7 linked regions of the Homo sapiens genome follow. The protein of the gene in region 1 interacts with the protein of each later gene in a pairwise test. Each region holds a gene or a part of one and is shown in the gene's direction. Other genes may lie near its edges. The genes, in order: GPR75-ASB3, ATXN1, PRKN, BAG6, PRPS1, SPRED1 and TARDBP.

What was found.
Region 2: the proteins of GPR75-ASB3 (region 1) and ATXN1 interact in binary tests that used the Homo sapiens proteins (3 or more experiments, as listed by UniProt).
Region 3: the proteins of GPR75-ASB3 (region 1) and PRKN interact in binary tests that used the Homo sapiens proteins (3 or more experiments, as listed by UniProt).
Region 4: the proteins of GPR75-ASB3 (region 1) and BAG6 interact in binary tests that used the Homo sapiens proteins (3 or more experiments, as listed by UniProt).
Region 5: the proteins of GPR75-ASB3 (region 1) and PRPS1 interact in binary tests that used the Homo sapiens proteins (3 or more experiments, as listed by UniProt).
Region 6: the proteins of GPR75-ASB3 (region 1) and SPRED1 interact in binary tests that used the Homo sapiens proteins (3 or more experiments, as listed by UniProt).
Region 7: the proteins of GPR75-ASB3 (region 1) and TARDBP interact in binary tests that used the Homo sapiens proteins (3 or more experiments, as listed by UniProt).

The regions. Positions count from the first base shown.
Region 1 is NC_000002.12:53,671,832-53,675,633, reverse strand, and holds part of GPR75-ASB3 (GPR75-ASB3 protein), read left to right. Parts: intron 1-3,802. UniProt on the Homo sapiens protein: Probable substrate-recognition component of a SCF-like ECS (Elongin-Cullin-SOCS-box protein) E3 ubiquitin-protein ligase complex which mediates the ubiquitination and subsequent proteasomal degradation of target proteins. Recognizes TNFRSF1B.
Region 2 is NC_000006.12:16,754,376-16,759,090, reverse strand, and holds part of ATXN1 (ataxin-1), read left to right. Parts: intron 1-4,715. UniProt on the Homo sapiens protein: Chromatin-binding factor that repress Notch signaling in the absence of Notch intracellular domain by acting as a CBF1 corepressor. Binds to the HEY promoter and might assist, along with NCOR2, RBPJ-mediated repression. Binds RNA in vitro.
Region 3 is NC_000006.12:162,258,052-162,262,766, reverse strand, and holds part of PRKN (E3 ubiquitin-protein ligase parkin), read left to right. Parts: intron 1-1; coding exon 2-242; intron 243-4,715. UniProt on the Homo sapiens protein: Functions within a multiprotein E3 ubiquitin ligase complex, catalyzing the covalent attachment of ubiquitin moieties onto substrate proteins. Substrates include SYT11 and VDAC1.
Region 4 is NC_000006.12:31,645,722-31,650,436, reverse strand, and holds part of BAG6 (large proline-rich protein BAG6), read left to right. Parts: intron 1-809; coding exon 810-927; intron 928-1,041; coding exon 1,042-1,238; intron 1,239-1,472; coding exon 1,473-1,526; intron 1,527-1,685; coding exon 1,686-1,760; intron 1,761-2,610; coding exon 2,611-2,846; intron 2,847-3,913; coding exon 3,914-4,043; intron 4,044-4,715. UniProt on the Homo sapiens protein: ATP-independent molecular chaperone preventing the aggregation of misfolded and hydrophobic patches-containing proteins.
Region 5 is NC_000023.11:107,630,944-107,635,658, forward strand, and holds part of PRPS1 (ribose-phosphate pyrophosphokinase 1), read left to right. Parts: intron 1-4,715. UniProt on the Homo sapiens protein: Catalyzes the synthesis of phosphoribosylpyrophosphate (PRPP) that is essential for nucleotide synthesis.
Region 6 is NC_000015.10:38,258,491-38,263,205, forward strand, and holds part of SPRED1 (sprouty-related, EVH1 domain-containing protein 1), read left to right. Parts: intron 1-4,715. UniProt on the Homo sapiens protein: Tyrosine kinase substrate that inhibits growth-factor-mediated activation of MAP kinase. Negatively regulates hematopoiesis of bone marrow.
Region 7 is NC_000001.11:11,022,654-11,026,665, forward strand, and holds the end of TARDBP (TAR DNA-binding protein 43), read left to right. Parts: coding exon 1-1; 3' UTR 2-2,839; downstream 2,840-4,012. UniProt on the Homo sapiens protein: RNA-binding protein that is involved in various steps of RNA biogenesis and processing.

The DNA.
Region 1 (3,802 bases):
TTGACAATAACTTTTTCATAATTGCTAGATAGGCTAGATAGAATCCTGATTTAGTTCAGCTAAGCCACAGTGTACTTCTCCCATTTAGACCTTATTTCAGCTACATCCATGTATCAGAATAAACTGGGCTTAGAACCAACTCTTTGAATTGCTAGATCACTAAGAATTACATTAATAAAGCCTAGTCAATCACCTTGTTCTTGTTAAAATATTAATATTTAAAGGAGTCTTATACCTTTAAAAATGAAATTATTTAAAGTATATATCTTATTTTATATTGGCTTATTTTATTTTATAGTACAAATAATGTTTGGTTAATAGTATACATGTAATTTATATGTAAAATATATATTGGATTCTGTGGTCAGAGACTTTACTAATTTAGTGTGTAATCAAAACATTTGGAGATCACTAGATTCTGTGGTGCCTGGGATTTGTGTGGTGTTTCACTTTATGAAATGCTTTTGCAAATGTGTTCCAACTTGAACATCATCAACAGCCTTTTGATGCAGGGAAGTGTCATTATGCCCATTTTGTAGATGAGGCATTATTCTCATTTTATGGAAAGGTAACTGAAAGTCAGAATATTTAGATGACTTGCCCAGGGTCACACAGCTAGTTAATAGTGGCACCTCAGCGCCAGCACAGGTGTTACTACTAGATGGTGCTTTTCCATTTAATCCATTCATTGCCTCTACTGGTCATTCCTTTATACTGGCCATTCCTATTGTTTTGACTTCATGTCCTAATCTATTACTTGTTTTTCAGAGTTCTCAGGTACTTGCTTTTTGTGTTTTTTCTAGCGGTTTTAGTTATAGTCAATGAGAGAGACAACACAAGTAAATTAAGAAAAACTGGGAACAAAAGGATGGATACCAACGAGAAAGACAATATATTAATGATGAAAATAAAAATGGTAGTAGGTGTCTCAGAAGTCAGATAAATGCATTTGATGTGCAAAACATTTCAAAGGAACCAGAGAAATGTAGTTCAGGCAGATAGGTTGTTTGAACATTGGCCTGAGGGAAGGCTAAAGATGAATGTAGAAAATATAGTGGGTGTGTATGATATAGATATAGTTTTGTGCTATAGTAAAGTTGGCATTTATAAGCATAATGAATTAAGAATTGTGACGTTTATTTTGATCATTGTGTGTGCTTTTGATTTTAACAAAACTTTGTATAACAACATGTAGTCTTCTATTTTGATTGTTCTGCCAGTACATATAACAAAATGAACAAAATAGAGGAATTCTGTATAGGAATTAAAAGTTAAATATTACTCATCTGCTAATAGATCTATGGATAAACTAAGTTTAACATATTGAATAAAAATGATTGGGTCAGAAAAGTGACTTAGAAGTGTAGCATGGTTTCAGACGTCATTTTCTAGGTTACAATCACTGCCATAATCCAAGAACATGGAGATGTATTTAACAAAACTAAAATATAGTTTTAATAGGTTTTCATGAAAGTATGTTTTACATACAGCTTCTGTGGCCTTTTTCGTATTATAAATTCAAGGCATGGCTTGATCTTCTAGCCTAGTGGCAACACGTCTGGAAATAACTATGCATCACTAAAACTTTCATAGGGATTTTGTGTGCTTTGAAATATTGCATATATGGTTATAAAATTCCCTTAGTATTTACTGGCATATTAAACAAAAATGGCACTGACAGGCATATTATTGTCTGTGTTAATAATCTACACATGAAACACTCCCTCAGTTCAGCTGAACATAGTTCTTACCTCTAATTGTTCATTAGGCCAGTGATCTGTTGTGCTCTTAGAAGGAAAACCAAAATGGTGCAATTAAAATTTGAACCAATACCTGAAGTAGCTATACTTTTCCTTTTTTATTATTAAATGGAAAGATATTCTGAAATTTATGATAGTTTCAGTGGTTTAGAAGATGTTGGAGAATTATATTGAGCTTATCATAGTTTAAAGAACCCTGGACTGGGAGTCAAATCATTGAGATCTAGTTAACAACAGCTATGTTGTTGATGTGCCACATCTCAGTGGGCAAGTCAGTTACGCTTCTCCTAACAAATGCGAACTGGTCTAGTGTGGCTTGATCACTAATGGTTAAGCTTCTACACATAATTAGCATAAACAAATGATTTATTAAGCTTTAAAGATAGACCTCCAGTGATGTAGTCACATAATCTAGAAAAGCTGGTCAGCACTACATTAAGTTTTAGGGTATCTGGAGGAATCTTCCCAGTCAGCCCATAGAATTTTAAGCCAGTGTAGTCTGTCCACTCTGAGAAGCTGGAGCATCATTAAGGATCCCTTATCTCCATGTGAGCAGCTCTCCTCCGGGTTGCACAGCCATCCTTTATCTTCCTTCTGGTTGTGTAGTAAGTATTCATGTTCCTAAGAATGTGCAGAATGAAGAGATTCAATTTAACAGATGCCTGTTAAACTCTAACTGAATATAAGTAGAAATTCTCTTTAAAAACACACACTGGATTAAACAGTCTTGTCATTTTCTCTTTCATTTCCATCTGACTATGTCCATTGGCATGCTCTGTGTTTGCAGCTGGCCAGCTACACTCTAGAATGCCAGTGTTCCTACCAGCAGAGGTGTGTGCTTACCAAACAGCAGTTATGCTTATTTCTGAAACTTTTTATTACGTTGTGCATATTATTGGAGTTAAATAATTCCAGATTGCACAAGCTAATGAATTATGAGTGTGAAAAGAGAATCATTGTTGCTGTTAAGGCAAAGTAGAATGCAAAAGACTTGATAAAGATAAGCACAGAACAGAAATAGATATTGAATTAGACGTGGCTACAACAACTGAAAGCAAAAAAACCTGTAAAAATATGGAAGGATTATGCACTCACCTTGTTTCATACATGCCTTTAAATCCATGCTGTAACTCAAAGAAAGTGAAACTGTGTCCTTATTTATATAGTGGTGAGTAAAAAATACATAAATAAACTGCAAGCCATAGATGTTGCATTCTAGATGTGTTCATGTATCCATTTTAAATTAGAATGTTTAAAGTATGTATGGTTGTTGTGGTCACCTGCTTTAAGGTGAGTTTCTATTAACTGACCAATTATTGTTCATGATCCTACTAAGAGGGCTTCCTTATACTTGATAGTTGAACATAGTCAATCTACTTAAACCTTTGGAAAACGGTGGTGTTTGCAGCTTGGGCCTGCTTTCCATATGTATTCCTGCAACTTCCTCCAGTGGCCCCTTTACCTGTGTCTTCCCATCTTTCATGTGAGAACCATCATTTCTCCTTTAAGTTTACAGAAAAGTGTCAAATTTAAGTAAGATATGGATATGAAAAAAGTTAGAAATAAATGTGCGTGCTATATACTATAGATACTGTAATCTTATTATTTATAATAGGGAATCTATGACTCATGATTTAAGAAAATGCCCAGCTTAGACTTAGGTTTTATGTACAAAATCGATAACTTTTGCTTTCTTATTTGGCATTTTGAAACACCAGTTTGAGTGATTTCTTTAATTCTGAATAAACTAAACTAAACCTAAACTAGTAAACTAAAAACGATGATGAGTTAACTTCTATGGCTTGGAAGATATTGAAGATGTTAGAGAATTAATTGGTCTCAAGCCCTATGGGTATTAGAGTTTAAAGAACCCTATACCTGGAATCAGACTAGCTGGTCTGGTATCAGCTGTGCTCTTGATAGTACTTGTCTTTGATGCTCTGATCCTGGTCTGTTCATCATTGTTAAATTTCACAGGGATTTATAAAAGATTTCTTGAATTAACAAAAGGCTTTGGTCCGATTCACATAAAAGCAGACATT
Region 2 (4,715 bases), on another chromosome or scaffold:
TTTCTGTTTGGGTTTTTTAGGAGGCTGCAGTTCCTAGAAGCCCCCCTTAAGCCCACCCTTCGGTTTATTTGATGGGTAAAGGTAGTTTGATACTTGAGCTTTTTTTGGAGTGAAGCTTATGTCTGAGGAAACCACCAGAGAGAAGAGAAAATCCTGCACAGGAACTCTTGGAAAGGGATTGCACCATAACGGCTAGCGCTGTGGCATTTAATCTCCTCTGATTGCCCTCTCACTGTGCATGCATCAGTCAATATTTTAGCAGCTCCGCAAATAAATGGACTTGAATGCCATCTTCTACATAAAGCAGAGGTTGAAGGGCTCCCCTGAACCTCCTGGCTGCCTGTCAGTGGTGTAGGTTTTCGGTGCACTTACTCCAGTCCTGATCACTCATGTAATTAGATCAGGCTGCCATGGCAACAGACAGTGTTCCTCGTCCATTCAGGTGGGTTTGTCTTGTGCCTGAACTACTCCAAGTGTTTTATGCACAGCATTTATGCTGCCCAAGCCAGACGAGAGACTCCACTATTTCAATTGCATCTTCTTTCAGTCATTTGGATGGGAGACACTGAATGAGGCTTCTAGCTACTCAACTTTTATAAAGGAGACCAACAAGCTGTTCTTCCTAGGTGCAGTATGTAAATGCATCTCCCCAGACAGTGAAAGGAGCCTGACAATCCTGCTGGTGTTTATTGTGAACAGATCAACAAGTATTTGGTACTTGTTAGAAACCTTTCAGAGCTCACTAAAGCAACATTTCTTTTGCAGTCTGGTGCCTTTGGCCTTGCAGTCAGTCACTTAACCCTTTCAAGTGTGAAGAGCGTTCATCATTTGGAACCTCCATTGCCCATAGCGATGGCTGGATTTCTAAAGGGTTTACTCAGGGGAATAACTTATTCGGAAAATATATTCCCATTGTCACATTTTAAAACTTGACAGCCATCATAACAAAAACTGGTACTGACAGTAGGCAGACATTCTGAATGTATTCATTCTTAATTTGGATCTATTGGCTGTGATTTGAATGATCTTTGGTAGTAAGTTAAAAGGATTTTTTTTTCCTTAGCTAAGCGAGAAACGATAGAGGCCTATAGCTAGAGGACTGATAGTGCATGGTGCTTTTGGACAATAAACATGTACTTTATTTTAGGATGTAATTTAGTGAGCAGTTAGAAAGCAGTATTCTAGTCTTTGCATTAGGGCACCACTGATAAAGCTGGCTAAGCAAAGAGAAATAATATTATGGCAAAAAGGAAAAAAGGAAAAGTTGCTTTAGTTGCTGAAGCTCTGTGCTGCTCAGGCAATCCAACTAAGTGGGGCAGGGGGCGGGCGGGGGGGAGTATTTTCATAACCCTGGTATTTGAAAGAAAAGATAATTGAGAATTATGTCTTGATTTAGTTGTGACTGCCAGTCAGTTTACAATTTTATGGCCAACAAAGCTAAACTGGTAAATTTTTTCCCCCAGGGCTAGGATTGAGAGAGCTACTCAACTCTATTCCCAGGGGGTTTATGAGTTTTTACCGTTTTGTGAGTTTATGTGGTTGGTAAATTCATTGTGGCCTGGTCAGATGAAGCACTGCTGTAGTTAAAATGAGCTATTATTTCTTCTAGCTACTCAACTTTTATAAGGTGGTAAATAGATGGGAAGCAAGGATGTCAATATTACACAATGCCTTGGAGGTCCTGGATTCTATTTTGCAACATATAGAAAAATGCTTTACTTGCAGTAAAATGTGAACATATATTTTTCAGTGCACAAATAAATTCATGTGAAAATAAGTATAAAAAAATGTACCTGGTGGGAACCGCCAAAGGCAATATTTTTCCTTGCGGATTTCGTTTTAAGAGGGTTTGGTAAACAGAAGTGACACTTTGTCAAAAATGTTACGACTAGACTTCAGGACTTCTGAATTGTCTTTTACACTTAGAGGAAGATTAAACAGAAACTCTTTAGCCACAAGATTACATGTCAAATGCCTGTAAGTTTCAACATACCTAAGTCAGTTGCCTAGGAGTCCTGGGAAAGGCCAGTGCTGAGATTATTGAAATATTAGTAAACATTACTATGACTCCTGTTTTTGTTGTCATTATGGAGTCCAAGGACGCACATTTCTTTGAATAATGTTGTGCCTTTATTGTTTTTCATTCTGAAATGTCAAGTGGATTTTACTTTTTTGCACATACCTTGAGTGACAGTTTCTGATGACTAACACTAACACTCATTTTGTTTCCTATTAAAAGTTAAGCAATAAACATATTTTACTAAAATTCTGAAACTCACGTAAGTAGGTAAATGTGGGAGTGAATGTTAATTCTTTAAACTGTAGTTATCTGAAAATAACACATAGATTAGGATCTGAACAGCTTAAATACTTGCATCGGTAAAGTGACAATAGTGAAGTAAGACAGGCTATTATTTTTAGGGGAGAGATAGATTATTTGACTTTCCTTGCTCTGTATTTTCAGAGTAATTCAATAGTTCGAATGATTAGTTTCTGTGAGAGATTTAGATCTGTGCAGCTTAATTGCTTCAAATAACAGATTTAGTTCTGGTCATACTTCCAAGGTTATCAGAAGCAGGCCCTCCTTATTTTGATAAAAGCATTGAAAGCAATACATTGTAGAAATGGTAATAGAAATAATAATTTCTGTTTTAGGACCTTACATATAGAACTTCCTTTTCTAAGATAAGAATTTTAAGTCATCAATTATGTTCACATTTTATTTTCATGTAATTTAGTTTAATAAAATAAATGTACTCATTCAAAATTTTTTTAAGAAGTGATATACAGTGTCAGTTTTACAGAATTTTTTAAATGTTGGCTGAAAGAACGGTAATTACATTGAGATTTTTAAAAATATATAAATGCTTAAAATTACAGAAGTAATAAAAAGAATGGTTTTAGACAAATCTTATGGAAAGTTTTTTATTTTATTCTTTTATAATTATATTTATGGATATTTGTCTTTATTAGTGTAGTAATATATTTTATAACGCTCATAATTTGAACTTTCAGGCTAATGTACTATAAATATTTGTATTACGCATTACTACCATCCCAAATGTACCAAAACACGTTTAGAGAGAACAATTATGGACAAAAAAGCAACAAGCATTATATTTTGTTTGACATATTTCATGTTAGCAGAAATGTTTCATTGATTTTTCTGTAACTTTTAATGCATCCCATTTGTGGAGTAATGAAAATGTAATGATAATTGCCACAATGTAAGCAAAAATTGTATCCTACCTGAAAATTACTTTCCAGAAAATTCATGGTAGTGTACTCAGAATTTGAGACTCAAGAGGGCAGAGGTTTCCCCGATTGTGATGTTTTGATTTGGGCTAAGAGGAACTCTTTTTTTTTTTTTTTACACTTAGGTGCCCTTTAACATGACAAGTTTTGAATGAGTTAGGTAGCAGAAGTTTTTCGTGACAGTTATTGTAGCTACTAACCTATAGCATCTATCCTTCTAACGTTCAAAGAAAATATATTTTTCTGTCACTGTGTATGGCAAACTTTATTTTCTTGTGCCCTTAATTTTGTTCCCCTTTCTCACATTATCTCCTGGTACTTACTGACCATTACCTCAGTTTTGTTTAGGCCGTCTTTCTTGTTAATCTTCCAATATTAATAGTATTGTATTATGTTGCTCTGCTGGGTTTTAAAAATATTGAGTATTCCATTTTTGGTGTATATTATTGTATAAAATGTCCTATAAATTATTTTCTGGTATATTATTTTGTAAGTTTTTGCAGTGAATACGTGCTGCCTTGCTTGTATTCTTGCCTTCTTCCCTCTGATGGAATACAAGTTATGTAAACTCTCTGTATTATCCTAACTAGTGCAGCAACACAAATACTTTTGAAATAAGAAAGCATACTCATGCAAGAGTAAAGTAATCTTCTATGGCATTTACATCATGTTTGACCCTCCTCTGCACTTCAGCAAACTAGGAGGAGGTTGTAACTTGGACTCTATAAAACCTTATCTGCCAGGTGATATGTAAACAGGATTGTGTGCACACACATTGTCATATAGGCAAACACTCTCCCAACTGGTGAGCTCATAAAAAGCACTGTCTGTAAATTTATGGTACCTGCACCTCATTTGAGAATCAAGTATTTTGATGCTTAATTTGAGATGACATCATGATCCTCCCTCCCTGCTTCCTCATCCTTAAAGAAGTACTAAGATTAAATAGAATTTTGTCAACTTCTACTTAACTTGGCCATTATTTATATTTGTAACTCAACAGGCTTCTTGGTGGAGGGACTGTGCCTTCTAAAGATCTGAAAGACCTTATAGTGTATAACAGCTTACCTTCCTTCTCTGTACGCACAGATCACATGTGGGGAAACCAAGGACTACAAGAATTCCTTCTTTTGCATATCAGTCCTCGGCAGGCAATCAATGCTTAAATAAATGCTTGGTGAATGGATTAGTTAGAAGTAAGAACATTTTGGCTACTGTTCATTACTTTGAAAAGTGCTGGAAAGAAGTGGAAGTTATTTTCCTTTCCAGCTGGGCTGTGCTCTTAAAAATAGTGAGTGTGTATGGATGAAAATAATCATGAGTACCGAGATGTGTTGCCATGTACCCAAGGATAATTGGCTCACTTACCTGTTTACGGATTATTCACATTGGAGATCATATTCATAGCTCCAGAATAGTTTCTTTCTGACATCCAATATAAACCTGGGCCTCCTTCTTCC
Region 3 (4,715 bases), on another chromosome or scaffold:
GAATTGTGACCTGGATCAGCAGAGCATTGTTCACATTGTGCAGAGACCGTGGAGAAAAGGTCAAGAAATGAATGCAACTGGAGGCGACGACCCCAGAAACGCGGCGGGAGGCTGTGAGCGGGAGCCCCAGAGCTTGACTCGGGTGGACCTCAGCAGCTCAGTCCTCCCAGGAGACTCTGTGGGGCTGGCTGTCATTCTGCACACTGACAGCAGGAAGGACTCACCACCAGCTGGAAGTCCAGGTAATTGGAATGCTCTAAGATTATTAAAGCATTTTGTTTGTTTGTTTAGTGCAGTCTGCATGGAGCATGGCCTCACCGGGTGCATATTTAGTTTATGATACGTTTTGGATTGGAGTCTCTAATTCACTACAAGGAGACATCACTGTAGGTGGAGTACTTTGATGTAACATTTGAGAATGCATTTATTGTAAGTACTATGAAACAGGTTTTCATATTGAGATTAAATATAAGAGATATGTTTCTAGTGATGTAGAAAAATTCTAAAAAGCAGAAAGAACTCTAAAGCTAATCGAGCCATTTGTAGTTTCTAAAGCCAGATATGCCAATGGCAATGACATCCTTAGTGTGAAAGGACTCTTCCTTCTCTCTATGCTACCACCCATTTCAAAATGCTTTTCTTTGGCAAAGATTGTTATTGTTTAGTTATTTTAAAAAAATTAATATGTGCCTCTTAGTCTTTTATTCTCTAATCTAAATAGTCAAAGGTGTAATAGAATTAATTTTTACTGTGTTTGACAGAAGACACAAAATAATCACAATGACTTTACAGGGTAGAAGTTGATTTTCCTCCCACATACAATAGATCCTGGCAGTTGTGGGCTGGTATGGCCTTCACAGTGTCAGAAAGTTCTGGGGCCTGCAAGATGGAAGCCTAACATAATAAGAAATGCCTCCTACTAAACTTACTAAATAAAATTTAAGGAACTTAAAAATTTTCGATGATCTTGCAAAAAATAAAAAAAGATAATTTCCAAGGACAAGTGAAAATGTAGAAACAACATCTTTAAATACAGGAGTAGATAAGCCCAGAAAGTAAGGCATTAACTGATGCTCTGGTGATCTTGAGATGATTGTGGGAGGGAAAGAGGCTCTGCTTCATGTGAGCTGGGCACCTCAGGTCTGGAAAGAAAAATTGAGAAATGGAAATAAATGTCAAAAATGGGGAAAAATGAGATAAATCTAAACCCCTGCAATACTCTTGTGACCAGAATAATATATTAATATAAATATCGAACCCAAGCCCATAACAATTCTGACGTTTCAACCAGAGTATGTATAAGATCATTCTGACACTGACACCTCTAGAGAATACTCATGCTCCAACATTATAAACCAAACAATGGAAAATTCCACCTTGAGTGTGTATGAGACCAGAATATGCCACCCCAAAATATGCCACTTTAGCATAAGTATTATTTTAAGCTGATTATTTTGAGAAACAGTAGACACAGGAAAAGCTCTAAAAACAGAGTAGAAGTGACCCTTTTGTAAGGGAAATTTATATCTACCAAGGAAGTCTCCATTTGTAAGGGTGTCTCCCTCTCCTTACTAGGATGAGGAGGACAGAGTCTCTGGAGACTCTGATCCTTGAGAAGGCACCAACTGAATAATCTGCCTAACAAACCTTACTCTTGTCTTCTCCTCTCCCTTTCTTCCTTTGCCATTGAAGATGGTATTCAAGCCTGAATTTTAGGCACCTCTTTGAGATTTATGCATTTTTTCTGGGTGTCTCACATGTACAGTTGTCCCTCCCCATCAACAGGCAATACGTTTCAAATCCCCCAGTGTACGCCTGAAACCAAAAATGGTACCAAACCCTATATTTACTATGTTTGTTCCTGTACAACTGTATAACAGATTGGATTTATTATGTTAGGAGACCTATCTACTAGTTCTTTAATTTGATTTCCCAAAATAAAATTCTTACTAAAAATAAAAAAATCACATTGTTTAGAGCAAAATTAAACCTTTACTTATTATCTGAATATTAAAAACAATTTGAGCACAAGAATCCTGTTGTGTACATATTCATGTTCTTTAATACATTTCCTAGTGCATCTGGCTCTACTCTCTTATCAACCATATTCATCTGAAAATTTTAGTCTTCTTATTTTGTTTTATCATAAAATTGCCCTTGGTCTTCTCCAGAATTTTCTTTTATGAGAATGAACTTAGAATTATTGACACTTTCAACTGACTCTCTCTCTCTCTCTAGACCATAATATTTTAAGAAAATATAGTATTCTCTCTATATAGGGTCTGAAGTACCAGTAGGCACTGAGAAAATTCTGCTAAATGTCTAATATTCTCTTTATATTTTTAAATTGAAATGTGTGATTATTTCAACCCAAACAATAGAGAATAAATTCTAGTAAATTTATGGAATGTGGTAAATGACAGCAGCCTTCAGAGTACTGTATGATCTATGATGATGCGCTGTTTCACCTTGACTTTCCACTCATGTCTGAGTCACATCTAACCTCTGATCACCCTGTTTCTCATTTACCCCTCTGTCTTGTGGCCTGCCAGCCTTGTGCTTTTGGCAGGCTAGGGACTGGCTCAGGCAACTCTACATGGTGCAGTTGGGGGCTGCAGGGTTGCCATCCTAACACTTCTCCCTGCACCACTACACACTGGGGGCAACTTCCTGGCACCCTACATGCTGCTACTAAAAGGCCTCTGTAAAGATATGTTGCATCTGTAAAGATTGGGAAAAGAGAGATGGTGCATCCCAGGTCAACTTTCAGATTTAACTCTGTGTTAAACTAACAGCTAAACTACAAGTAATCCTCTCCTGCTCATTAGAACTGGAGGGAATCCTTTTCAGAACTCTTAGGACTCTCCCTTATTACTTGCTATTTTGTACTCCAGTTCTGACTTCACCTTTTAATCTCTTTGAGGATGGAGTTTTTGTCCAATTAACTGTAGTTTTCCCCAAAATCTCTTAGAAGAGTGGTGATACATGTTTACTAAATTGCTTCAAATTGTAAACATAGTCAGTCATTCAACAGAACTCCTGTGCATTTAGCTTTTAGAGCGAATGCTTTATTTAAAATTATACAGAGAAATTGAGATTTCATCTCTTCAAATGTCTTGGTTCATTCTTGGTTTGAGTTAAGACTGAATGGAATGATTTGAAATGACTATATGCAAACAGTATGCCTATATGATTATTTTTCTTCACTAAAAATGATAGCGTAAAGTTACTAGAGCAGAGATTCACAGACTCTCATGTGCAGAATTATCTTGCATGTTTTTCCATGTTTCTTTGATGGCCAGAATGGCGAGAAAAAAAATCTTCTTTCATTCTTTTTCTGTGACCAGAAATTTTGATGTATTTGTCTGGGGGTAGAGGCCCCAAAATGTTGGTACTGACCATACTCTGAGAAACTCTGCCCTATGGCTAAGGTTTTCCAGCCTTACAATTATGGATCCTACCTGTTGTTCTCACGGAACAATCGGACGCTGGGTGGGAGAACAGAGGCAGGTCGGTGAGAGGTGAACACACCAAGCCAATCACAGCAGCCTGAGACCATTCCTCTTTACGTACTTCACATATTAAACACATAAAACATCTATCATTTGAAAAGATGAAAAAAATCCTTGGTTATACAATGTTTGAAAACCTGTGCCTCAGAAAAAGAGATTAAAAGAAATCCCAATTTTCTGTGCTTCCAGAGTCTTCAATTTTAACTTCGAAGAATATAAGTGCTGGCTGGACGTGGGAGGGCTCTAATGGGTGAATAGCTGGGCTGTAGCCTCATATGTTGTCGAAACAAATGGAAACTTCTGAAACCCGAGAAGGTGCCTTTCAAGTATTTTTAGTTGGCAAAAGATAAGTGGTCAACATGAGAGGTGATAACATGATGTACATGAAGAACCAGTTACACTGTTGGTACTAAGAACGCAAGCATGTCACACTAAAGACTTGTAAGAGGACGTCAAAGAACTGGAACGAGTCATTGAAGTAGTTTTTACAGCAGTGCCACTCAAGCTTTAGTGCTCATCAGAATCACCTGAGGACCTATAAAAGCACAGATGACTGGGCCCAGACCAGTTGGCCTTGGATGGAAGCTGAGAAGTTGCGTTTCCAGCAAGCTCCCAGGTGATGCTAACACCGCGGGCCCAGGGGCTGTGCTTTGAGTAGTACTGCCCGAAATAGTAAAAAATAGTATTCCTTAAAATATGGTCAGTGAATAAAATCTATTTTTACTACATTTTCAATAAGAACGTTGAGCTGCACCTGGGCTCCAGGGTGCCTGTGTGTAAATTACCTTCATGTGTTATTGGTGTTTCCTAAATGAGGCGCCATTCATCATCTCCTGACAGATGAGATGAAGCTATTGGACCTAGCAAAAAAATAGGAGGCTCCTCCAATATCCGTCATACAGTTAACGAACTACATAAACAAATAACGATTGAGTCCTTACTCTGTGCCAAGCACAGTGCCAGGTACTGGGATGTAGCAGAAAATAGAAACAGACAAGATGCCTACCTCAACGGAGCTATTCTATTTGGAGCAGCTAGTAAGTGTGTGTTCTATCGAGAAACAGCAGAGTCAAGGGGACAAAGAGTATTGGTGGGGAGTTCCGTAATATACAGCAGCCGCGAGGCCTGTGTGATGAGCTAAACTGTGAGGAGGGCACCCTCAGGGAGCATCCATTTGTGTGCCAAATGGCAGAGGCGACAGCA
Region 4 (4,715 bases), on another chromosome or scaffold:
ACCTGCCTCGGCCTCCCAAAGTGCTGGGATTACAGGTGTGAGCCACTGTGCTGGGACCTTTTTTGCTTTCTTATCTTCTTAGTCTTTCTTCATTAACCTGATACCAGACCCCATCTTCTTTGCCATTTTTTAATCTTGGAAATCACAGGAGAGTCTGGTAAATAAACTGGTATCATCTTGTGTTTGGAAAGGGGTCACTGATGTCTCTAGACACATACTCCCTTGGATGCCAGACAGATAATATAATGTCCATGTGTTTTTTTTTTGTTTTTCATCCGTGTTATTTTTCCTGGATCTATAACCTGAGCTTCATTAAGTTTATTTATTTAATTTTTTGAGATGGAGTCCCTCTCTGTCACCCAGGCTAGAGTGTAGTGATGCGATCTCGGCTCACTGCAACCTCCGCCTCCCGAATTCAAGTGATTCTCTTGCTTCAGCCTCCCTAGTAGCTGGGATTACAGGCGACCACCATGCCTGGCTTATTTTTTTGTATTTTTGGTAAAAAAGGGGTTTTACCATGTTGGCCAGGCTGGTCTCGAACTCCTGACCTAATGTGATCTGCCTGCCTTGGCCTCCCAAAGTGCTGGGATTACAGGTGTGAGCCACCGCGCCAAGCCAAATTTATTGTCTGTATTTTGACAGCTGTTACTTTAGTTTAAGGGTTTGCACAGTAATGATCTCACGGTCAAGACAAACGGGTAGTGATTCTGTGGTGGTTTTTACCCCTCACCTCCACAACTCGGTTGTCTGTCTTTGTTCTTCCTCTTTCCTCCATTCTTTCCATTCCTGTGCATGCCTCTTCTTTTCAGATGAATGTAAAAGAGTTTAAGGAGCACATTGCTGCCTCTGTCAGCATCCCATCTGAAAAACAACGGCTCATTTACCAGGGACGAGTTCTGCAAGATGATAAGAAGCTTCAGGAATACAGTAAGGGGGCTGGGGAGGCAGTTCAGAGGTTGGGGCTACTGTCTGGAGGGATGAACTGAGGCCATGGGTTTACCTGTTCATACTATGTTTTGGTGTGTGTCTATTTTTCTGCAGATGTTGGGGGAAAGGTTATCCACCTGGTGGAACGGGCTCCTCCTCAGACTCACCTCCCTTCTGGGGCATCTTCTGGGACGGGGTCTGCCTCAGCCACTCATGGTGGGGGATCCCCCCCTGGTACTCGGGGGCCTGGGGCCTCTGTTCATGACCGGAATGCCAACAGCTATGTCATGGTTGGAACCTTCAATCTTCCTGTAAGCTTATGTTCCACAGGGGAGGGCTTTTGTGGGTAGCTTTGGTTGTGGTAGCACCAGGGAATTAATAAGATAGATGCTTCCATCTTTAGATTGGGTTCAGGGGGCCCTGTGGTGTGCTATTGGTCTCAGTCTTTAAGGAGAAAAGGAGGTAGGGCTCCAGGGAATGAATTGGAGGTGTGGAGGCCTTAGTGTTGGCTTCTCCCAGAACAACTTCCCTTACCCTTTCCCCAGAGTGACGGCTCTGCTGTGGATGTTCACATCAACATGGAACAGGCCCCGATTCAGGTATTGAGGGGCCTCCGAGGGTCAGGGAAGGGGATCTGGGAGAAGGAGGCTGGGAGGTGGGGTGGACCTGGCTGAGAGATGGCTGGGACCTGATTTAGTAGGTGGTAGAACTCATGGCTTCATCTGTAACCTACCCTGATAAACCTTCTCTCATTGTAGAGTGAGCCCCGGGTACGGCTGGTGATGGCTCAGCACATGATCAGGGATATACAGACCTTACTATCCCGGATGGAGGTAAGTGGGCAAGGCTGGCTAGGGTCTCTCTCCACCCTCCCTCTCCCTTTTCTCTCAGCCTGGGAGTTAGGGCTTCACTGGCCACATCCACAGGGTTTGGCCTTCATAATCTAGTCTTCTCTGCAGTATTCATTCTTTTGGGCAGAAAAAGTATCTTTGTGAGGCTCTCTCATTTCTGCCAATCCTCTTGGTGCCTGGTATCTGGGGAGTTTGTTTCAGACTTAGTCTCATGGCATCTCTTTTCAATTAAAGGATTCTACTCTCTTAACTTGTGGAGGCTGGGAAACCAACTTGTGGAGGAAAGGAAACCACAATCTCTACTCTTTGTTAGAAATTTATTTACAAATATTACAGATGCTGTGGCCGGGTGTGGTGGCTCCTGCCTGTAATCCCAGCACTTTGGGTCGCCATGGCAGGGGGATAACGTGTGGTCAGGAGTTCCAATCCAGCCTGGCCAACATGGTGAAACCCTGTCTCTACTACAAGTACAAAAATTAGTTGGGTGTGGTGGCACGCGCCTGTAGGCCTGGCTACTTAGAAGGCTGAGGCAAGAGAATTTCTTGAACCTGGGAGGCGGAGGTTACAGTGAGCTGAGATCATGCCACTGCACTCCAGCCTGGGCAACAGAGCGAGACTCTGTCTCAAAAAAAAAAAAAAAAATTACAGATGCTTATTATGCATCTAATTTGTGTCAGTCTTATGCTAGTTGCTAGCGAGTCGGAGATAAAATTGCAGAGCCATGCCTTCAGGGAGTCTAGTTAGGATACTTTCTCTGTTCAGTCTCCTGTAGAGTAATCCTCTGCAGCAGTCTTACCCTGCCTTTGGTATCCTGACTCTCCCCTACCTTCAGTGTCGAGGAGGGCCCCAACCGCAGCACAGTCAGCCGCCCCCGCAGCCACCGGCTGTGACCCCGGAGCCAGTAGCCTTGAGCTCTCAAACATCAGAACCAGTTGAAAGTGAAGCACCTCCCCGGGAGCCCATGGAGGCAGAAGAAGTGGAGGAGCGTGCCCCAGCCCAGAACCCGGAGCTCACTCCTGGCCCAGCCCCAGCGGGCCCAACACCTGCCCCGGAAACAAATGCACCCAAGTGAGAGATGGAGGGAATCTTTAGTGGGTGGGGAATCCTAAGTGAAGTATGGGGAGAAGGAAATGAACCATGGCAAGGGAGGGAAAGGATTACTTGGAGGTCTTAGTTGAAGGGTTAGCATTGAGGGGCGAGGAGGGGCTCTCTCGGTATAGGTAAATGACGCTAGGACAGGCAGCTGAGAAGAACTGCTGCTCTCCCTACGGCAAGGAAATCCAAATGGTATCTCCTGAGCCTGATCGGAATTCTCCTCTGAGTTCACGAAGGCCTGCTCTCTTTCTTAGAATTAGTCTTTCACCATTGTAGGTGCAGGATTGTGGTGGGGAGGGTGGGAGCAGTTCATTTTCTTCTCCCTATCCTCTCATGGGTGGGAGTAAAGAATAGAAGCTTTGGCTGGGTGCAGTGGCTCATGCCTGTAATCTCAGCACTTTGGGAGGCAGAGGCGGGCAGATCACCTGAGGTCAGGAGTTCGAGACCAGCCTGGCCAACATGGTGAAACCCTGTCTCTACTAAAAAATACAGGCCGGGCACAGTGGCTCACGCCTGTAATCCCAGCACTTTGGGAGGCCGAGGCGGGTGGATCATGAGGTCAAGAGATCGAGACTATCCTGGCTAACATGATGAAACCCCGTCTCTACTAAAAATACAAAAAATTAGCTGGGCATGGTGGCGGGCACCTGTAGTCCCAGCTACTCGGGAGGCTGAGTCAGGAGAATGGTGTGAACCCAGGAGACGGAGCTTGCAGTGAGCTGAGGTCGCACCACTGCACTCCAGCCTGGGTGATAGAGCGAGACTCTGTCTCAAAAAAAAAAAAAAAAAAAAAAAAACAAAAATTAGCCGGGTGTGGTGGCAGGCAACTTAATCCCAGCTACTTGGGAGGCAGAGGCAGGAGAATCGTTTGAACCTGGGAGGCGGAGGTTGAAGAGAATAGAAGCTCTGCTGGTCCAGAGAAGGATTGGGCCAGGGCTCTGGGAGACCAGGGAGAAAGAGGGCACATGTGGTCCCTGTTGACTGTGAGGGTGGGAATCTGAGGAAGGCTTTGGCTCATTGCCCCTTGGGTTTGTCCACAGCCATCCTTCCCCTGCGGAGTATGTCGAGGTGCTCCAGGAGCTACAGCGGCTGGAGAGTCGCCTCCAGCCCTTCTTGCAGCGCTACTACGAGGTTCTGGGTGCTGCTGCCACCACGGACTACAATAACAATGTGAGCCCTTTGATGGCCCTGCCCTTTCTCCTCAGCCCCAGTACTCCCAAAACAGAACAGGCTGAAATGCAGATAACTCTTTCCCTCCCTGGAAAAACATTGCAACAGGGCCAGGTGCAGTGGCTCACGCCTGTAATCCCAGCACTTTGGGAGGCCAAGGTGGGCGGATCATCTGAGATTGGGAGTTTGAGACCAGCCTGGCCAACATGGTGCAACCCCATCTCTACTGAAAATATAAACATTAGCTGGATGTAGTGGTGCACACCTGTAATCCCAGCTACTCAGGAGGCTGAGGCAGGAGAATCGCTAGAACTCGGGAGGAGGGGGTTGCAGTGAGCCGAGATTGCACTACTGCACTCTAGCCTGGGTGACAGAGCGAGACTGTCTCAAAAAACAAAACAAAACAAAAAAACACACATTGCAACAAAACAATTTCTCTCTAAACCTGTAAGTGATTTTGTCCTCCCTTACAGAGAAGGTGATAATCTTTGCTGTAAGCACTGTCCTCGTATCGTACCCCTTGTGCCCCTGAATGAATTTAGAAAATGTAAAGTACAGGAGATCAGTATATGATGACTTACTGATTCATAGTAGTGTTTTAATAGGATGTTCCTTATGTGAATAAGATATAATTTATTTGCAAAGATTTGGTCTACATGTAAACTTCCAAGG
Region 5 (4,715 bases), on another chromosome or scaffold:
GTACAACAGTAAATGTTGACAAGAAGGGGTGGTGATAATATTGCAGAAAATGTGGAAAATTTAGAACACGGAAGGGAGAAGATATGCCTCTTAATTCTGCCACCTGACATAAATGTCACATTATCATTTCTGACCTCCCAGATATTTGTGTAAGATACACTTTTTCAAGAATGTTTAATACATTTATAGCTCTCTTCACTTAGCAATATATTTTGAACAGTTTCTCCCTTTAATATTTAGTATATATGATTTTCTTTTTTTATTATTAAAGATTTTAATTTATTTTTTAGAGATGAGGTCTCACTATGTTGCCCAGGCTGGAGTCCAATAGCTACTCACAGGCACAATCATAGCACACTGCATCCTCAAACTCGCGGGCTCAAGTGATCTGCCTGCCTCTGCCTCTCAAGTAGTTGAGAATACAGGCATGCACCACTGAGGTGGGCTAGTTCATGTAATTTTAAATAGCTATATAGTCTTACCTTATGGTTATGCCATAATTTTATATAACCAAATTCTTATTGGACATTTCCAGTTTTTGATCTAATGCTTTTATATGAAAATCCATGAACATAAATCTTTGACCATTTCTGATTATTTCCTTAGAATAAATCCCTAGGAAGGTAATTATTAAGTTAAAGGGTAGATACCATTTTTCAGGCTTTTGATACCTGTTGCCAAATTATTCCCCAGAAAAGTTGAACAAATCTGTCTCATCAGCAGTAATACAATATTAATAATATTTATTTATGTATTTATTTTTTGAGACGGAGTTTCACTCTTACTGCCCAGGAGTGCAGTGGTGCGATCTCAGCTCACTGCAACCTCCGCCACCCAGGTTCAAGCAGTTCTCCTGCCTCAGCCTCCCGAGTAGCTGGGATTACAGGCACGTGCCACCACGCCCAGCTAATATTTTGTATTTTTAGTAGAGACAGGGTTTCACCATGTTGGCCAGGCTGGTTTCAAACTCCTGACCTCAGGTGATCCCCCACACCTTGGCCTCCCAAAGTGCTGGGATTATAGGTGTGAGCTACCGTGCCCGGCTATAATATTTAATGTATAGTGAATGCCTAAGATGTGCTAGTTTCCATGCTAAGCATTTAGTATACATTGTGTTTAATCCCCTCAAAACTGCTATGAGGAATAACTCTTACTATCCCTATTTTACAGAGAAGAGAACTACAGTAAGATGCAGAGTAACTTGCCCAGCTCTGGGTATTATTGTTCCTTTAAATTTTTGCTGACAAGATCTCTCACCTGGCTTTAAAAACTTAGATATTCTAAAATTTTGACTCTATTCTCTTCAATATTTGTAAATAACTTTGGTTTATTTGGTTATTCTGTACTAGCTGAGAGGAGGAAGACTTGAACTTTGGTTGCCTAGGGTTTTCCTGAGAACTGTATCTTCTGGTTGTGGTTAGTTAATCCCATGTATTTTGCACATGCCAATATCTCCATAATCTAAATTCTTCAGATTTTCTTAAGACTACTATCCACCTTTTAGATTCACTTTTGGTGTTTCCTGACATTCCATTTCAATTGGATACACTTATGCCTGACCTTAAAGGAAAGGGAAAAGAGAAGCTAGTTTTTTCACTCATTGGATAGACATAGCCAGTCTTCTGGCCTCACCAAAACAGCTGAGAGAATGATTGGCCCAAAGCCATTTGGAGAACACTCCATTAACTAGAGGGAGAGAACAAGGAGTATTACTCTCTAAATTGCTGAATTAGGTTTTTCCACTTAATAGATTATGTTAGGAGCAAACAGGTTTTAGGCACAAATATTCTTCTCGATCACTGCCATAACTTAGAAGAAGCCATAAGAATAAGGTTAAGATTTTTAGAGGACTTGTTGAACCAAGCTGTATAATCAGAGTGCAATTCACGGACTTTTTAAGACTTTGTCAAACAAAGTCTGTATGTTATAGTACTACTATAGGGAAAGATTGGTTTTAATAAGTGAAATTAGAATTATACACATTAAAACAAGGCAGTATCACCTAGTTTACTTGCACCACCTTATTTTATTTATGTATTTGCTTTCTAAGTTTCTCTACTTTTATTTCATTTTTGTAAGATCTTTTCAAAAGCCCCACATTTTTTAAACAGTTAAATAACCTTTTCAAGTTATTAGATACATGCCTTATAACAAACACCTTCTATGCTGAAGGTAGCTTTTAATTTTAAAAAGTTTGAGCCGGGTGCGGTGGCTCACGTCTGTAATCCCAGCACTTTGGGAGGCCGAGGCGGGTGGATCACGAGGTCAGGAGATCGAGACCATCCTGGCTAACACGGTGAAACCCTGTCTCTACTAAAAATACAAAAAATTAGCTGGGCATGGTGGCAGACGCCTGTAGTCCCAGCTACTCGGGAGGCTGAGACAGGAGAATGGTGTGAACCCAGGAGGCGGAGCTTGCAGTGAGCTGAGATCCTGCCACTGCACTCCAGCCTGGGCAACAGAGCGAGACTCCATCTCAAAAAAAAAAAAAAAAAAAAGTTTGGCTTTGAGAAATAGCTGAGCTGTTGATTGATTATTAAGTGATATAATAACAAAAATGGTACTAGCGACTGTATTGGGTGGTAAGCTGATAAGTGATTTTTATTTATTTTTATTTTTTGTTTGATAAGTGATTTATAAAAAATTATTATTCAAGCCTTATGTGATGTTAGAATATGTATATTTTAAAAATAATCACCTTGGCTGGGTGCGGTGGCTCACACCTGTAATTCCAGCACTTTGGGAGGCCAAGGCAGGCGGATCACCTGAGGTCAGGAGTTTGAGACCAGCCTGGCCAATGTGGCAAAACCCCATCTCTACTAAAAATACAAAAATTAGCCAGGCGTGGTGGCACACACCTGTAGTCCCAGCTACTTGGGTGGCTGAGGCAGGAGAATCACTTGAACCTGGGAGGCAGAGGTTGCAGTGAGCAGAGATCACACCATTGCACTCCAGCCTGGGTGACAGAGTGAGATTCCGTCTCAAAAAAAATAAATACAATTTAAAAAATAAAATAATCAACTCTATTAAAGCTATATATTTATCAGATGCCCTTTGATGTTTTAATTAGCAGTGATAATTTAATTTTTAAATAGTATCTCACCTGCTTTCAAGAAAGGATTTGAAGTATGTTTGATAGTCACTAGTACAAACCGTTTGTTAAGGTAGGTATCAGAAGCCTTATAGAACCATGGACTACAGTAATTGTGGCAACTATTTGGCATAAAACAATTTCTAAAGTTTAGTGTTACTTTTTATTTTATTTATGTATTTATTTATTTATTTTTTTGAGATGGAGTCTAGCTCTGTCTCCCAGGCTGGAGTGCAGTGGCGCGATCTCGGTTCACTGCAAGCTCTGTCTCTCGGGTTCACGCCATTCTCCTGCCTCAGCCTCCCGAGTAGCTGGGACTATAAGCGCCCACCACCACGCCCAGCTAATGGCTAATTTTTTTTTTTTTTTTGTATTTTTAGTAGAGACGGGGTTTCACCATGTTAGCCAGGATGGTCTCGATCTCCTGACCTCAGGTGATCTGCCCACCTCGGCCTCCTAAAGTGCTGGGATTACAGGCGTGAGCCACCGCCCCAGCCTAGTGTTACATTTTTTTAACTGTATCCCTTGGCTTCCTGACAGCCAGAGGGATAAAGGCATATGCAATCGATTATGTGGTTTTTATTTTCATAAAGTTATTTAGAAACTTCCAGGCAAAAAATCCTAAGAATTTTATGGGTGAGACCTCTAAATAGTGATATCGAGTAACATCATGGACAATATAACAATTTTGTGGGTATTTTTTATATTGACTGATAGTTGAGGCATTTGTAAAGGGAGATAAGCCACTGTGGTCTAAGAATGTTGTTTTCTGGTCTTACTTGATAATGATAAAGTTTTTTGTTTTTTTTTTTTTTGAGACAGAGTCTCGCTCTCTCGCTCTGTCTCCCAGGCTGGAGTGCAATGACTTGATCTCGGTTCACTGCAAGCTCTGCCTCCCAGGTTCACGCCATTCCCCTGCCTCAGCCTCCCGAGTAGCTGGGACTACAGGCGCCCGCCACCACACCTGGCTAATTTTTTTGTATTTTTTAGTAGAGACGGGGTTTCACCGTGTTAGCCAGGATGGTCTCGATCACCTGACCTCGTGATCCGCCCGCCTCGGCCTCCCAAAGTGCTGGGATTACAGGCGTGAGCCACCGTGCCCAGCGATAATGATAAAGTTTTAAAAACATAGCAGAATAGCTTGTCCCTTATACTGTCTGATATCAATTGTCAAACTACATTTGTTCATTTGTTCTCCAACTTTTAATCAAACATCCTGACTCTGGCAAGTGAATGTCTGGAGCACAGATGATACTCTGTGTTCTTGACTGAAACAAGAGCCATAGGCTTCTGATACATGATTGGAAATCAATATGCCTGCCTGACTTTCATTCTCCTCCAGGGAAATGCATATTTTGGTCAAGGAGCTGATATATGGAGGATGAATGTGAGCAGCATTAAAATTTTCTGATTTTTTTTTTTTTTGAGACAGTGTCTCACTCTGTCACCCAGGCTGGAGTGCAGTGGCATGATCATGGCTCCTAACTCCTGGGCTGAAGCAATCCTCCCACCTCAGTCTCCCCAGTAGCTGCAATCACAGGCACTTGCCACCATGCCTAATTTTTAAATTGTTTTGTAGAGAGGAGGTCTCTTTATGTTACCCAGGCTGGTCTCAAACTCTTGG
Region 6 (4,715 bases), on another chromosome or scaffold:
CATCCAGATCTCTTACTTTTCCCTTGAGATAGTCTAAGAATGGAGTTAAAAGAGAGGAAAATATTTAATTTTATTCTTTCTGTTAAATTGCCCTCTAGAAAAGAAGTATTTAGTATATGAGAGTGCTTAAACTTTGAAATGTCTGTACAGTTGTCTGAATTTTTCTTTGCCAATTTTGAAGGTAGAAAATGAAGTCTTATTTTTTAAATGCTTTATGGTAAAATAAAATTGATTTAAAAACTTATTAGGTTGTTTTGCGGTAACTAGAATGTTTTTAAATGCTATATTATAAATAGAATTTAAGTGCTCATGTAAAAGCCATTTGTACATCATTTATTTAACTCTTACCATCTTCTGTGCAGTATGGTATAGTCTAAAGAACACTGGACTTGAAATTGGGAGATGGATTTCTTTTGTAGCTATTTTTAATTTATTCTCTAATCCTGGGCTCTGTAGGCCTCAGTTTGCTGATTTATAAATTAAAGAATTTGGACTAAGCATCATATGTGCCCTTCCTTTGTTGATGGTGTATGATTTAGACTTTGTTAATTTTATTATATTGTTATTTTTGACATACTTAAACAAAAGACTTAAGAGTAGAAGTGGTAGGAAGATTAGGTAAAAGCATGCATTTTGAACAATTAAGATACAAAATTTGGAAACAATTGGTATATTAATAGTCTTTTAAGACTTACTTTGGGCTTAATAGCCATGTATCTTTGATGACACAAAATTTTGTACTACTCAATTTTGTTTTTTATGTATTTATTTATTTTAAAGAGGCAGGGTCTTGCAGTGTTGTCCAGGCTGGAGGGCAGTACAGTGGTATGATCATAGCTCACTGCAGCCTTGAACTCCTGGGTTCAAGTGATCTCCCACCTGTGCCTCTTAAGTAGCTAGGACGACAGGTGTGCCACCACACCTGGCTAATTTTAAAATTTTTTGTGGTGATCGGGTCCTGCCCAGGCTGGTCTCAAATTCCTTGGCTCAAGTGATCCTCTTGCCTTGGCCTCCCAAAGGGCTGGGATTACTGGCATGAGCCACCATGCACAGCCCTCATTTTAAAAAAGAGAAAAAAAGTATGGCCTCCATCTGTGGATGAATAAGTAAACAAAGGCTATTGGGCTTAAACACCAACTTGATTAGTTCTACAAGGAATATGCTAACAAGATACCAGTCTTTATGCTTTACTTACAGAAGTAAGTTTTTTACTAGGTCACTTATACAAATCAGTAATGTAACACTAGGGGATAACTGTATATTAGTTTAAGAAGTTAACTCAGGTAATGAATTTTGTTATTCTTTAATGTTTAGATTTATGATAAGTATTATGTCATAGCTGCATCTCAGAATCCAGAACCAAAATTATTACATATCTGTGAGATTGTGTTTTTGCGATACTCAGAATGAAAAACAGTTCATTAATAATGGATTTCACGCTAAGGTATTATGTTGCTGTAGACAAAGCATTCTTAAAATTCAGAGTGTTTGCGGGCTTGAAGGAAAATGTGACGTTCTTACTAATCTCAACCTGAACATTCATAATTAAAGGAAGTGTTAACAAGCTATGACAGTATTAGAGGTACTTGTGACAGCAAATGTGTTAGTTTTTATTGCTGCTTTAACAACGTACTACAAATTGGGTGGCTTAAAAAGCAACAACAAGTTTATTGTCTCACAATTACTAAAGGTCCAAAATCAAAAAGTTGGCAGGGCCATGTTCCCTCTAAAACCAGTAGGGGAATCCTTTCTTTTGTCTTCCTTGCTTCTGGTGGTTGTTGGGAACCTTTCACATTCCTGAGCTTGGAGCTGCATAATTCCATGTCTTCATCATCACATGGCGGTGTTCTCCCTGTGTGTTTCTATCTTCATTTGAGTGATACCAGTCATTGGATTAGGAGCCTACCCTACTGCAGTATGACCTCATCTTAACTAATAAGGTCATGGGGCTAGGACTTCTACATGTATTTTGGGGGAGACACAGTTCAACCCATAACACCAATAGAAACTACGGATTTTTTTTTTCTTATAGCACAATTGCTGTTAGCTGTTACAGCTATCTTGAAATACCATTTATAGTCATCACTAATTTGAAATTATTATAGTTATTAAAGCTATTGCTAGAGCATATATTTTAAAGTGTTAATAAAGAACCGCATTATTACCATATCAAAATGAAAAATATTTCAATAACTATGTCAATATAATTAATTTCTTTTGTAATACTGTGTATGTTGTTTTAGGCCCCTAATATTGTTCTGAGAAAGGGGTCATAAGCTTTACCAGGCTGCCAAAAACATCCATGACACAAAAGGCTAAAATCTTCTGCAATGGACAGAAGCCCAGAAGCCTGAACCCAAAGATAGAGATATAAAATAGGAAGAGTAAGAAACATGAGGATAAGATGAGTAACTCCAACATACAGCTAACAGTTCCAAAAGAAGAGAATAGAGGAGACGAAATATTACAAATAGTGGCTGCAAATTTTTAAGAACTAGCAAATCAAACCTCACTCAGCGAACTAGAACAAAACAAAGCCTCACAGTCAAATGGGGTTTATCTTGAGGATGTAAGAATGGATCAACATGAGAAAAGCAGTGCATTTTATCACATTTGAAGATTAATGGAGAGAAATGATACGATCTTAATAAATGCCAGAAATGTCATTTAATCTCTGCCCATAATAAAGTAAATGTTCATAAATATAGAGACAAATTATTTTTCTGCTCTCTAGAATTTCAGATTTTTAATTTTTCTGATTTAAAACGAGGGTGTGGGATTTACTTAACTTTGGGATTTTAGTCCAAGAGTTCTAGAATCATAACTGATTTTTTTGTACTTCTGAATTAATATATCATTTCTGTTACTCAGATGTAGGATTGACTGGTGGAAATTGCCTTGTGTCTGAAATTTCTGAATTACCTTGCAAGGCATTTCTTTCTGTGTTTGGAGAGCAAAGAATAACCTTTAGTAAATTCAAGAGTAATTGGAATTAAATTTCAGCCTAATATCAGTTTAATAATTTTATGTCTAAATTTAATCTGTATGACAGGAGTTATAATTTGTTTTTGTTTTTGTTTTTGTTTTTTTAATTTATTTTTTAGACGGAGTCTTGCTCTGTCTCCCAGGCTGGAGTGCAGTGGCGCCATCTCGGCTCACTGCAAGCTCCGCCTCCTGGGTTCACGCCTTTCTAACAGGAGTTATAATTTGGATAAAGGCCATTATGAACTTGGAATGTGGAATGTAATTCTTTTTCCTGGTAGTATTTAGTGATACTATTGCATGTGATTAAACACATTTTGCTTGAGCTGTTCATGTAGTTAGGAATTACATTCACAAATACAGTGTTTTTTAATGACTTCTATATATTAGCATCCCGTGGCAGGATTGCCAAAAATTTAGATAAAATTTAGTGAGTTGTGTCTTTTCTGATGCCACTTTTTCAAAGTTACTGTAACTTTTACCACTTCAGAGTGTTTTTATTCACTTCAGCACAGTCACCAAACTCTTTTTTTTTTTTTTTTACTGTTTTATTGTGTTATTTTTATACTGTGAGATTGGGGAGTTCTGGGGTTTCCCCCCTTAATATGTAAAAGCAGTATTAAACATTTCAGAATTTTAGTTGCTGGATTATATATATTGACTTTTTACACTTTCAGGATAGATTTGAACAGGGACCATTAATAACTTTTTCCTAAAGAAATTCAGTTCAGTGGCATTTGAATGAGTGCTTACTAGGCACTTGACTTTTGCCTTAGCTTTGGAGATACAAAGATAATTAAAACTTTAAAATCGCTATCACAGTCCACAAGGGAAATAGATACTTCTGAAATGTGATGGGTGTTCTGGTTATAAAGTTCTTCAAGGCTCAAGGAGAAAGTGATTCTACCTGGGAGTTGGTGGCAGGATGGTGACTGTGTGAAGGAAGGCTTCAGGAAAGAAGTGGCATTTTAAGAGTCAGCCATGAATGAGAGCATGGAATGGGGGAAGGGTATTCCAACCAGGAAGAGAGGGGGCAGAAGACAAGCACAGAAAGAAGAAAAAGTTGGAGGAAAGGCAATACCTTTTTGGATACAGTTGTTTGGAGGAGTTGTTAAGGAAAGTGTTGAGGGACCAGATTGTGAGTAGTGTAGATTTGTGCTTACCTGTATATCACCAACTGTGGGGCAAGGGATGGTGGCTAGGCCTAAAATATGAGACACAATATGAGCATGGCAGAAGCCCCTGGAAATCAGTTTTTCTTGAAAAGTTGAATATTTATCTGACTGGTTAGTAATAAGATGAATTTTGAACAGAGTTCCCATTAATTTTATAGATGAAACACCGAAGAGTTGAAAGAAAATTTGTTCTTTGAGCTACCTTCCCTCCTCACCACAACTATCTTTAGTCAGTAAGGATACTTAATGAGAGACACCAGGTGAAGTTTTCATCATGTAGACAGTGGCGACTCAGTATTTTAAGTGAGGGAATGATAATCCAATTTGTGTAAAGCAGGGCTTCTTAGGACAGTTGACTGGAGGGAGAAGAAAATGAACTTCAGTTGATGAGGAAGAATGTAGTAAGACAACAAAACAGAGCTGGGAATAGAGCATTTGGAACTATTGGGGACTCATATGAGAAGAAATTCAAATGTCCAACGATTATTTGACTGAATGTGAAGGAAGGAGTAGGAAGGTTGTGGGATGACTTGAACATTTTAAATTTAGGCCGCTGTA
Region 7 (4,012 bases), on another chromosome or scaffold:
GACAGTGGGGTTGTGGTTGGTTGGTATAGAATGGTGGGAATTCAAATTTTTCTAAACTCATGGTAAGTATATTGTAAAATACATATGTACTAAGAATTTTCAAAATTGGTTTGTTCAGTGTGGAGTATATTCAGCAGTATTTTTGACATTTTTCTTTAGAAAAAGGAAGAGCTAAAGGAATTTTATAAGTTTTGTTACATGAAAGGTTGAAATATTGAGTGGTTGAAAGTGAACTGCTGTTTGCCTGATTGGTAAACCAACACACTACAATTGATATCAAAAGGTTTCTCCTGTAATATTTTATCCCTGGACTTGTCAAGTGAATTCTTTGCATGTTCAAAACGGAAACCATTGATTAGAACTACATTCTTTACCCCTTGTTTTAATTTGAACCCCACCATATGGATTTTTTTCCTTAAGAAAATCTCCTTTTAGGAGATCATGGTGTCACAGTGTTTGGTTCTTTTGTTTTGTTTTTTAACACTTGTCTCCCCTCATACACAAAAGTACAATATGAAGCCTTCATTTAATCTCTGCAGTTCATCTCATTTCAAATGTTTATGGAAGAAGCACTTCATTGAAAGTAGTGCTGTAAATATTCTGCCATAGGAATACTGTCTACATGCTTTCTCATTCAAGAATTCGTCATCACGCATCACAGGCCGCGTCTTTGACGGTGGGTGTCCCATTTTTATCCGCTACTCTTTATTTCATGGAGTCGTATCAACGCTATGAACGCAAGGCTGTGATATGGAACCAGAAGGCTGTCTGAACTTTTGAAACCTTGTGTGGGATTGATGGTGGTGCCGAGGCATGAAAGGCTAGTATGAGCGAGAAAAGGAGAGAGCGCGTGCAGAGACTTGGTGGTGCATAATGGATATTTTTTAACTTGGCGAGATGTGTCTCTCAATCCTGTGGCTTTGGTGAGAGAGTGTGCAGAGAGCAATGATAGCAAATAATGTACGAATGTTTTTTGCATTCAAAGGACATCCACATCTGTTGGAAGACTTTTAAGTGAGTTTTTGTTCTTAGATAACCCACATTAGATGAATGTGTTAAGTGAAATGATACTTGTACTCCCCCTACCCCTTTGTCAACTGCTGTGAATGCTGTATGGTGTGTGTTCTCTTCTGTTACTGATATGTAAGTGTGGCAATGTGAACTGAAGCTGATGGGCTGAGAACATGGACTGAGCTTGTGGTGTGCTTTGCAGGAGGACTTGAAGCAGAGTTCACCAGTGAGCTCAGGTGTCTCAAAGAAGGGTGGAAGTTCTAATGTCTGTTAGCTACCCATAAGAATGCTGTTTGCTGCAGTTCTGTGTCCTGTGCTTGGATGCTTTTTATAAGAGTTGTCATTGTTGGAAATTCTTAAATAAAACTGATTTAAATAATATGTGTCTTTGTTTTGCAGCCCTGAATGCAAAGAATTCATAGCAGTTAATTCCCCTTTTTTGACCCTTTTGAGATGGAACTTTCATAAAGTTTCTTGGCAGTAGTTTATTTTGCTTCAAATAAACTTATTTGAAAAGTTGTCTCAAGTCAAATGGATTCATCACCTGTCATGCATTGACACCTGATACCCAGACTTAATTGGTATTTGTTCTTGCATTGGCCAAAGTGAAAATTTTTTTTTTTCTTTTGAAATCTAGTTTTGAATAAGTCTGGGTGACCGCACCTAAAATGGTAAGCAGTACCCTCCGGCTTTTTCTTAGTGCCTCTGTGCATTTGGGTGATGTTCTATTTACATGGCCTGTGTAAATCTCCATTGGGAAGTCATGCCTTCTAAAAAGATTCTTATTTGGGGGAGTGGGCAAAATGTTGATTATTTTCTAATGCTTTGTAGCAAAGCATATCAATTGAAAAGGGAATATCAGCACCTTCCTAGTTTGGGATTTGAAAAGTGGAATTAATTGCAGTAGGGATAAAGTAGAAGAAACCACAAATTATCTTGTGCCTGAAATCCATTAAGAGGCCTGATAGCTTTAAGAATTAGGGTGGGTTGTCTGTCTGGAAGTGTTAAGTGGAATGGGCTTTGTCCTCCAGGAGGTGGGGGAATGTGGTAACATTGAATACAGTTGAATAAAATCGCTTACAAAACTCACACTCTCACAATGCATTGTTAAGTATGTAAAAGCAATAACATTGATTCTCTGTTGTACTTTTTTGTAACTAATTCTGTGAGAGTTGAGCTCATTTTCTAGTTGGAAGAATGTGATATTTGTTGTGTTGGTAGTTTACCTAATGCCCTTACCTAATTAGATTATGATAAATAGGTTTGTCATTTTGCAAGTTACATAAACATTTATCAATGAAGTCATCCTTTAGACTTGTAATCGCCACATTGTTTCATTATTCAGTTTCCTCTGTAAAGGGATCTTGAGTTGTTTTAATTTTTTTTTTCTGCATCTGAATCTGCATGATTTCCAAACCCTGTACCATCTGAATTTTGCATTTTAGCACTTGCACTATTACTCAGCAGCAGTAACATGGTAACACTTAAAATGGTACTCGGGGACCTCCAAAGACTAAACTGACAAGCCTTCAAGGAGCCCAGGGGTAAGTTAACTTGTCAACGGCATGGTTTAATCCCTTCTTTACACTTGTGTAAATTTCAGTTACTGGTCATAGAAGGCTTTCAATGTTGAGTGGCCTTTTATTAACATGTTTATGGTACTGCATAGATACGGGTATTTATTTTACCCTAAGAAGATTTTGAAGTTTAAAAGTACTTAAACTATTTGGCAAAGATTTGTTTTTAAAAATCTATTTGGTCAATCTAAATGCATTCATTCTAAAAAATTTTTTGAACCAGATAAATAAAATTTTTTTTTGACACCACAGTTTAGTGTCTGGAGTCTTACTGGAAAAACACGATTTCTTTTTATATGTGATATACAGATGCTGGAAAGTTACCTTTAAAAATTGAGTCTCTAAAGAAAAAAGAAAATAATAAAAATTGAGTCTCAAGAAGTTGTACTTCATATGCACAAGAGAAATGAGGCCAAGACTCACAGTAAGCTTTTACATGGAATGGTAACTTTTAGTTAGACTGAAAAACTTGAATGTTAGCTATTAAAACCTTTTAGGAAGGAATAGCCAGCTAAAACCAAATGAGATTTTTAAAGTTAAATCAGCACTTAAGTTGTGTCCTTAGTAGGAAAAAGTAGGAAGTTAACTACTCCGTAATCCAAGAGATAATGTGTAACAGTAAGAATGATTTTGTTGTTGTTGAGTATGAGCAAAGTAGCCCCTAAGTGTGTATTAGGGTTCTGTACTTAACTGTTGTGTGATGTGTGCTTTTGTTAGGCATCACTGTGCCCAAGTATTTCATGTTCATTGTAAAGAGGAAAAATACAGATTTCTCTATAATGTCACCACTTATTTCTAATGCCACTTTTCATCTTGTGGAAATGCCATGTTTTGATTCAGTCTTCTGAATTTGAACATTATTCAGGTTATTTCCAATTGCTGGGAATATCCTTACTGCTAAAATAAATTCTTAGCATTGGAATTGCTAGGTCAAAGATTATGCATGCTTTTTAAGGGCTTTTGAAATGTATTGCCAGTCTGTGGCCTGCCACCCTCCCTGAACATGCCTGGTCTTGCTTAAAATGTATTGCCAAATAGTCCTTGGGAAGTTTATGTTGTCTTTAACAATGTGAAATAGTACTACTATTCACGTTCCTTTTGTCTGACAATTTGATAAGTGAATAATTGTATCCCACCATTCTGTAGTATTGGTTTTTAACATGGAAATTTTAGTCAATACCTGGGCTGAAGTATCAGTGTTTCCAACCTACCTACCCAAAAAAAGGATTCAAGGTTATTCCTCAATCAGTACTGCCATAATATATAAAGCACTTACAGAGATCAATAAGAACAAGTTTAAAAACAAAGAGCATGGACAGGCAGTTTACAGAAATGCCAACAGCCAGTATGAAAAGAGACTGGCTTTTTAAGGTAATGAAATGTAATTTGAGCAGTGACATTACACTGGGTGGGCAAAGATGACT